Regions from separate parts of the Homo sapiens genome. Here regions 2 and 3 are each reported to be linked to region 1. The links are microRNA targets in miRTarBase. Many come from high-throughput screens and were not tested one by one. Region 1 holds a microRNA gene; each other region holds the end of a gene's coding sequence. Distances are between the middles of the regions.

Region 1 (3,099 bases):
CAGCCTTCCAGGCAAGGTGTGATTCCAAAAACAGATACATGGCACCGAGGAAGCTGTAAGCAAAGTGAGTGCCTGCTACACACGGCTAGGGAGGGAGGGTCGGGGAAGCCAGGAGCACCGCCAGGCCACCTTCCTCCAGGTCAAATCCCACTTAATGCCTTCTGCTGCCTTCAATCCAATTCAGCAGAATCAAGAAATAAAAACGAATCTCATTTCCTGATGTGAGCTCCCCAAATGTTTTAGCCAATTCTGGGCCGGATTTTCTGTTTGCTATAAAACTCCTTTGACAATAATTGTTTTCATGGTGGGGGGAGTACTGTTATCTCCAGACTCTTTTGCATCTCAACAGAGAGTTAGATCAATCCTGACAGGGCTGGGGAGAATCAGGGGTCAGAAAACTTCAGGTTTCCTCTTACAAAGTTGTAAAATTGTGCCCTCTTTTCCCCCGAAGGTGGACCCCGGAGCAGAGGTCTGAGAAGAAAATCCCAGGGCCAGGCTGCGGCTCTGCACCCTTGCCACCTGTCCTTTGACCCCTCCGTAGCCAGCAGAGCACCCAATCTACATGGACCCAGCAGCCGCCTACCCTGGATACCCCGGAGGCAACAGCATACTGCCTGCTGTCACATGGCCTTGACACACTCTCTCTGCCCTCTCTTTATGAGGGCTCTTTTCGGCTGGAAGGAACGGTGTTTGGGTATCAGCTAATAGGAAGGATTGGTGGCGGAGGTCATTGGTGCTACCTCATATGTTCTCTCTGGTTATAAAAAGCAGGGTTGACATGGAAATACCTGGCCCTTCTCCAGAACCTGAGGCCCTCCTCCCTCACAGTCCCATCCCCAAATGCCACAGATGAGCCGAGGACCCACAGTCACAGCTAAGTGCCATCAAAACAAATGCAGCACCAGCAAAACCTACTTCTGTGCCTTGGCTTTAGAGCTGGCAGGGAGCCTTTTCCTTCCCCAGAGGCTGGCATCACCTCCAGGAAGTCCTCCTGGAAAGGATCGGGCACCAAGCATTACTGCCAGACAGGACGCTTAGAACAGGGGAAGCACCCATCTCGGCCCACTCACCCTGGCCTGGGCCTGACAACTGTCTTATCCGGAAGCCTTCCAAACTGGTGTTTGATACTGAAGAGTGGTCCACAGAAATGATTTATATAAAAGAAACAGATATGCCAAAGGAAACCTCTCCTTGAGCACCCCAAAGAAGGACCATCTGCAGAAACACAACCCTGAGGGTAGGTCAGATGTGCTGGTCAGTGGAGCAGGTGTGTTCCTGGGGAGGTACATGCCCCGTGGTGGGCCATCCACTCCCTTCCCCTGGATCAGGGCTGGTGACAATGCCCTCCCTTCAAGCTGGCATGACATCAAGGATTCCTCCAGATTTAAAGGAAGTCAACTCCACAATTCCTGTGAGAAATAAACAGGTCTCAACCTGGGCCAATTCCAGGGCCCCCAAGGTCTCCTCTTGACCTCAGAATCAGCTTTTCTTCCCTAAGGTGTCATTATATCCAGGACATCCTTTCAGAATAAACTGCAGGCTAGGGGCAGGCGTGCAGGACACCTGCACTATCTGTCCAGGGCATGCTGGCATTCCCCTGCTGTGGGCTGGGCTCATTCAAGCCCATCACTGAGTGTGGCAAGGACGAGGCATCCCCCTACAGCAGGGTCAGATGCCGAAAGAGCCTGAATTACACACACGATCCGTTGGGAGCACAACGAAGGCAACCACAGACAACTCACCTGCATGTTCCGTGACACTGTCGTGGTGACACTGTCTTCCCCCAGGCTGCCATCACATTGAAAAGTCCTCCTAAGAAGGGATAAGACATTGAGGGTTAGCGCAATCGGTGGCAAAATTCAGAAACATGGGGCACGCTTAGTGATCAGCCATTTGCTCGTGTCTCCTTATTTATGTCCACAGCACCCCTTCCCTGAAGCTGAGGTCTGGACCAGAAGGCCTCCAAGATGGGATTTGATACTGGAAAAGAGGTTAACCAGGTGTGTTTCGTCCTCAATAAAGAAACAGAAACCCAGAAAACCTCTCTTCAGGTACCACCAAGTAACACTGACAAGAACACCACTGATTCCTTCCCCAAACTTGACATTCAGTCCTGGAAGTCCTGTTAAATACGGATTGGACACTGGGGTTAGTAGAACAGATGACATCAGTCAAAATAATACAGCACAGGCTTCGTGGTTAACCATAGATTTCTGTCCAGTGGACTGGAGCTGAGAGTAACGCCCTTCCCTGAAGCTGAGGTCTGGACCAGAAGGCCTCCAAGATGGGATTTGATACTGGAAAAGAGGTTAACCAGGTGTGTTTCGTCCTCATTAAAGAAACAGAAACCCAGAAAACCTCTCTTCAGGTACCACTGATTAACACTGACAAGAACACCACTGATTCTTCCCCAGACTTGACATTCAGTGCTGGAAGTCCTGTTAAATATGGAATTGCACACTGAGCGTTAGTTAGTTGATTTGCCGGAAGAAGCCAAGAGTTGGATGCATGCTGCTTGCCAACCATCTATCCAAGTACCCCAGTGGAGCAGACCCCACATCACGTCTGGAAGTTGACATCACAGCCAGAGGTGGTGATGCCATAAAAAGGCTGGTCACAGCAGCTATCGCGTTTAGGGTTAACCTCCAGGGCCATCTTTTCTCAGTTACTCAAGAGAGGCACAGATGCCCCAAAGCAAGGCTGACTCCACCAAAGGTCCTGCTAAGGACCCAGTGGAGACTGAGGTGTGACGGGCCAGGCGACCTTGGTTGTAAATTAAAGTGCATACACTCAGGTCAGCTGATCACTGGAGGACTTTGGGATGGTATAGACAGCATGCCCCTTCCCTTGAACTTGGATGCCTCCACATCTAGGAAGCCCTCCAAGGAAAGAGATCGGAGTGAAAATCAGTCCAACTCAGCCACATTTGGCATACATGTCGCAAACGCCTCGCAGATGCTCTCTTCAGAGTCTAACAGAGTGCAGCTGGCCCCAGTTTACTGTCTCTTTCCCAAAAAGTTGACACCTCTTCCAGGAAGTTCTCCAAGGGGGCATTAGATACTGAGGGTTAGTGGACCAGGTCACAAACGGCACAAATAA
Region 2 (3,000 bases), not on the chromosome of region 1:
GTACAGAAAATCTTTCATTTTCCTCCCTGTCTGTTCACCAAATAAGTTTTTGTTTATTTAAAGACTACAGAGGATTTGGCTGTTAAGAACCAAATGCCTTTGGAGTGGAATTACAACATAATTTATCATTTCCTCTGTTTATTAAAAAATCCTGCATCTTTGAGAAGCACATTTGCAGTGAGTGGGGGATTTCGGCCACTCATGAAAGACTGTTGCAAAGCCCCTGTCATGTGGCTTACCCCAAAAGAGGCTCCTTAATTGCTCTATCTATCCCTGCTCTTCCCCCAGCTGACTTCTGATCATGTGATGACCACTTAGGGCTGGTGGATGGGGTTAGAGGACAGGTAAGTGGGGCAGGAGACTGTGTTAGTTTAACTTTGACCCAATTTTGACCTTGAATCCTCACTGCATGTTTCACCAGTGTAAGTAAAGAGGGAAGTGCAACCCTTATTACCTCCAGCACAGGAGAGAATCTGGAGGAAGTCAAAGAGCAAAGAGAAGTTGGATGTTGCTTTGAAAGAACTCAGCCAGGCCTTGCCACCACCAAAGTGGGCTCCATTCTGAAAGCAGACACCTTGCAGAACTGGAATGAACTTCCTACTTTTCCACCCAATAGATTATTATAGACAGCAATTTAGTTCAGTGCACTATGTACCCCCCCAAAACAGGGGTCATATCTTTCCCATTTTTGTATTGCCAGTACATAGTTCAGCACCTGACAAACAATTGGTGCTCACTAAATGCTAATGAAGGCAGCAGGACACAGTGGTTCCTTCCAGATTGGTGAGGTGCTGAGAGAGTGTGAGCCCAGAGAAGGCATGGAAGCTCCACACCCTCTCCCTCTCCCTCAACCTTGCCCTGTGTACCTCCTTCATTGGGCTGTTCAGCTGTATCTTTTATAATAAACCAGTGAACGTGTTTCCCTGAGTTGTGTGAGCTGTCCTAGGAAATTAACTGAACCAAAGGAAATCAAGGACTCTAGTTTGTAGTTGGTCAGTCAGGAGTATGGGTGGCCCAGACTCATGACTGGCATCAAAAGTGTTGGCAGTCTTGGGAGATGGAGCCCTCAACCTGTGGGATCTGACACTATTTCCAGGTAATGTCAGAAATGAATTGAATTATAGGATACCCAGTTGGTGTCTGCTGGAGAATTGCTTGGTGTGTGGGGGAAACAAACTCACACACCTTGTCACAGAAGTGTTCCATGTTGAGTGTGAAAGTACAAAAGGAAAAAAAGTTTGTTTTTTTCCTTTTACATTAGCACATCAGGCCTCAATTTGAATGCCAGCTCTGCTACTTGCTAGGTGTGTAACCCTGCACAAGAAACTTCACCTCTATGTAAATGACGCTGACAATGAATCATGAAAACCTTCTACCACTGATCAGCTTTGCTTTGTTACTTTGGGCAAATTACCTAATACTGTCAAGACTTAGTTTTCCTATTTGTAAATGAAGATAATACACATCTCTTAAGTTTACTGTCAAGATTATAAATAATGCCTAGAACTATACCTAACTCATAATGGCTATATTAGGAATGAATGAATGAATAAAAAATAATTGGAGGGAAAAAAACCTAATAACCCAGTATCCGAAGATAAGCCACAATAAACTACTTGTCTGTCAACAATGGGCAGGCCCTGCAGGAAAGGTATGTCACTACCAAGTAAATGTTGAGAACAAGTACAAGAGTGGAAAATGATAGAAAGGGAGTGTTAAGACTAGAAAGAAAAGAAGTCAGCATTTGCTGGGTAGCTACTATGTGCAATTTATTCACGATACAACATATGACTGCCTACTATGCTCCAGGCATTACACAAAGTTCTGAGGATATACAGGCTAATTAAGTGCAACAAGAATACTTAGAATTCGTACAAAGCAGTAGACTGTGCTATGAGAGCCGGTAATGAGGGTCCTAGGTTAGAGGGGAAAAGAAGACTTCCCAGAGGACGTGATATCCAAGACAAGGCCTGATGATAAACAGGACTGGCCAGGTAAGGAGGGGAAGAGAGAGCCAGGCAGAGAAAACAGCATGTGTGAAGACGACTCACAGGCAAAACTACTGTTATGGGTGCCTCACATACAGATCCTCAGTGATCATCAATCCAGACCAACTCTATTCTTTCCTTTGTGGTTGTTATTCCTTCCAATTTATTTAGATTTTATTGTTTAGTGAAAATGGGCCTCTAGTAAAGTGTCCAGTCACAGGTGAAGGCCAATATCAGAGTTTTAAAATGGGAACAGAGCCTAATTATTTGAAAAGGAGACTCCTAAGATGAGGAGCAGGTGGTACTAAGCCTGCCAATGGCCTCAGTCCCTTGGCAACATCAAGTCAAAGCAAATGCCTGAGTACAGGCCTTTTGCCAGCAGCAAGTATTTTCTGAGAGCCACCCACCGGCCCAGAGCAGAAGCAGGAAGAGAATGAACATGTCTGAGTGTTCCCCTGGAAGGCTGGGCCTTACAAGGACAGGCTTCTGTCAGCATGGTGACAGTCTTCTGTGTAGATGGGGGAGGGAGAGAAGTCCCAATGTGCCACCCATGGGATCCAGCAGAAACTGGGCTCTGGAGTATTGCTGGCCCCAGTGGACTTTCATCCAAGGAGTTCTTTGGTCTTCACTGCCAGATGCCTGTCCAGTTCTGCCACTGTGTCATCGGCCATTTGGCTGATCTGCAAGAACACAAAATGAGACAGCCTGATTAATGGGGCTGGAAAAGGGTAGGGGGATGAATATTCCAGAAACATGAAAAGGTTATGTGAGAAATAATAATAGTGACAAAAGTTCACATTAAGTACCAGTCAGGCACTGTACTAAGAACTTTATATATACATTCTTTTTTTTTTTTTGAGACAAAGTCTCGCTCTGTCGCCCAGGCTGGAGTGCAGTGGTGCAATCTCGGCTCACTGCAAGCTCCGCCTCCTGTGTTCACGCCATTCTCCTGCCTCAGCCTCCCGAGTAGCTGGGACTACAGGTGCCCGCCACCGCGCCCGGCTAATTTTTT
Region 3 (3,000 bases), 63 Mb from region 1:
GACACCACTTGTCCCTGAACAAGACAATTCAGTAACATCTATTCCTGAGATTCCTCGATGGGGATCACAGAGCACGATGTCTACCCTTCAAATGTCCCTTCAAGCCGAGTCAAAGGCCACTATCACCCCATCAGGGAGCGTGATTTCCAAGTTTAATTCTACGACTTCCTCTGCCACTCCTCAGGCTTTCGACTCCTCCTCTGCCGTGGTCTTCATATTTGTGAGCACAGCAGTAGTAGTGTTGGTGATCTTGACCATGACAGTACTGGGGCTTGTCAAGCTCTGCTTTCACGAAAGCCCCTCTTCCCAGCCAAGGAAGGAGTCTATGGGCCCGCCGGGCCTGGAGAGTGATCCTGAGCCCGCTGCTTTGGGCTCCAGTTCTGCACATTGCACAAACAATGGGGTGAAAGTCGGGGACTGTGATCTGCGGGACAGAGCAGAGGGTGCCTTGCTGGCGGAGTCCCCTCTTGGCTCTAGTGATGCATAGGGAAACAGGGGACATGGGCACTCCTGTGAACAGTTTTTCACTTTTGATGAAACGGGGAACCAAGAGGAACTTACTTGTGTAACTGACAATTTCTGCAGAAATCCCCCTTCCTCTAAATTCCCTTTACTCCACTGAGGAGCTAAATCAGAACTGCACACTCCTTCCCTGATGATAGAGGAAGTGGAAGTGCCTTTAGGATGGTGATACTGGGGGACCGGGTAGTGCTGGGGAGAGATATTTTCTTATGTTTATTCGGAGAATTTGGAGAAGTGATTGAACTTTTCAAGACATTGGAAACAAATAGAACACAATATAATTTACATTAAAAAATAATTTCTACCAAAATGGAAAGGAAATGTTCTATGTTGTTCAGGCTAGGAGTATATTGGTTCGAAATCCCAGGGAAAAAAATAAAAATAAAAAATTAAAGGATTGTTGATAACCCAGACTCAAATATCATTGCCTTCCTCCAGGAGTAATTAGGAACAGCTGAGGGCATGCTGGGAGTAAGCAGCAAGAGTGCATTCTGCTTTTAGATTGAGGGAGAGGTCCTTAAGTTCCTCGAATGAGACACAGATCTTTAAGAACTAGTAACTTTTTCATTGATTCTTTTATCCTTTCTTTTCAAAGTCACTGCTACTTGTGTGCTTTGCTATAAATCGAAAGTGTAGTGTTGCCAGAATTGCTGGCTCTGGAAGAAAATTACAGTTGACCACCAGTTCAAGTGTTTACTTTATGTCCATGCCCAAGGAAAACACATAATTTGCGTTTTCCCTTTCCAGTGTTTGTGCTTTCCAGCGTAATGACCTCCCCAAGCAAATAGCCCTCTCCTGAACATCAAGATGCTCATCCTCATCTTCAATTATGGTGATGTTAATTCTCAATTAAAATGTTAATGCTAAGTATTGATTTGCAATCTTCTGGTTGCATCAAAGAAAAAGTAAGCTGGTTTTCCTCCAAAGTTGCTAAGTTCTTGTGCATTTTTCAACCCATGGAAAAACTTGAACACCAAGCCATTTTCTTTTTCTCTTGATAAGAATGTGTGCAATAACAATACTTGCTCATTTTGGAGTGATTATAATCTTACAAGTGTTTACATGGGCAAAGGCATGGTAAACAGTTTACCATAAGAAATAATAGTATAAGAAATAAGTGACAAATTTTAAAAAATCTATCATCTTGTTATAACTGGGGGGTATTAGAAAGTAATCTAAATGAAGCACTCCCATGAAAAATAATTAAGACATAATAAAAATCACTGCCTCGTGGAATCAAAGTCCCTAGAAGATATCCCACTTTTATTAGTACGCTGAGACTTTAAAACTAAGAGTGTGGGGGTTGGTGCATGCAGAGAGGCAGAGAAACAAGCTTAGTAACAGGGAGGAATGAAAACAGAAGCTTACACTTTATTTTCACAGAATTATTTTAATGTTTTTGAGTGTACAATGTATACAATGGAAAATAGACTTACAAGTCGTAAGTGACCAATTATAAAATATTACTAAAAAATTAAAACAGCTCAATCCATAAATTCATTTCCTAAATATAAATATATATATTTAGTATTATAACATTAAAAGAATGAAACAATAGGTAATTTGCCTCATATACTAAATATGTTTCTAAATAGTTACACTTAAATAAAATTACAGAAAAATTAGAATTAACAACATTCAGGGGAATTTTAAATATTATTTTACAAGTGAAATTAAAAATCAGATAAGTACAGTAAATGGCTTGCCCATGTTCCCCAACCTGACTTGTCAGAGTATATCTCAGTTCATCTCAATCTTGGTGTTTTAGCTTTCCTCTTCACATGATCTCTCAGTAGAGAAGGTAAAAATTTGAGTAGAATATATGATGCTTTCTTTTGTAATTTGAAAAATAGCTTTATCTATAAGTGAGCTGAACTGTTTGTGTGTGTGTGTGTGTGTGTGTGTGTGTGTGTATACATAGTCATGCATTGCTTTACAATAGGAATACATTCTGAAAAATGTGTTTTTAGGCAATTTCGTCATTGTGTCAACACCATAGCACGTACTTACAAAAACCTAGGTGGTATAACCTATTACACCCCTAGGCTACAAACCTGTATAGCATGTTACAGCACTGAATACTGTAGGCAGTTTTAACACAGTGGTAAGTATCTCTGTATCTAAACAGATCTAAACATAGAAAAGGTACAATTAAATTACAGTATAAAAGATAGAAAATGATACACTTTATTGTATAGGGTACTTACCATGAATGGAGCTTTTTAAAGGACTGGAAGTTGCTCTGGGTGATTCAGTGAGGAAGCGGTGAGTGAATGTGAATGTGAAGGCCTGGGACACTTTATAAACGCTATACACTTAGGCTACACTAAAATTATTTTAAAAATTTTACCTTCAGTAATAAACTAACCTTAGCTTACTGTAACTTTTTTTGCTTTAAAAACTTTTTAATTTTTAAACTTTTTGACTCTTATGTAATAACACTTAGCTTGAAACACAAACACATTGTACAGCTGTACA

What was found. Region 1 holds the annotated microRNA hsa-miR-329-3p (AACACACCUGGUUAACCUCUUU, at 2,303-2,324, opposite strand). A microRNA usually pairs through its seed, bases 2 to 8, with sites in the 3' UTR of a target mRNA and lowers its output. Matches are read on the target gene's strand: a 7mer-m8 pairs with bases 2 to 8, a 7mer-A1 pairs with bases 2 to 7 and ends in A, and an 8mer does both.
Region 2: the mRNA of MRRF is a reported target of hsa-miR-329-3p. Seed matches in the 3' UTR shown: 7mer-m8 at 1,180-1,186.
Region 3: the mRNA of CLEC14A is a reported target of hsa-miR-329-3p. The part of its 3' UTR that is shown has no 7-base or 8-base seed match.

What each region holds. Positions count from the first base shown.
Region 1 is chr14:101,026,059-101,029,157 of GRCh38, reverse strand. It overlaps MIR329-1 (microRNA 329-1), which reads right to left and starts at 2,373; the gene lies at 2,294-2,373. LOC124903407 (mucin-2-like) reads right to left here. Exons shown (of 5, transcript XM_047432049.1): 5 at 1-3,099. It overlaps MIR758 (microRNA 758), which reads right to left; the gene lies at 3,051-3,099. It overlaps MIR329-2 (microRNA 329-2), which reads right to left and starts at 2,058; the gene lies at 1,975-2,058.
Region 2 is chr9:122,322,208-122,325,207 of GRCh38, reverse strand. MRRF (mitochondrial ribosome recycling factor) reads right to left here. Exons shown (of 7, transcript NM_138777.5): 7 at 1-2,668. The coding sequence ends at 2,591. Among named protein-coding and RNA genes, the nearest start is that of PTGS1, 47 kb to the left of the region's middle.
Region 3 is chr14:38,252,037-38,255,036 of GRCh38, reverse strand. CLEC14A (C-type lectin domain containing 14A) reads left to right here. Exons shown (of 1, transcript NM_175060.3): 1 at 1-1,037. The coding sequence ends at 487. Among named protein-coding and RNA genes, the nearest start is that of CLEC14A, 2.6 kb to the left of the region's middle.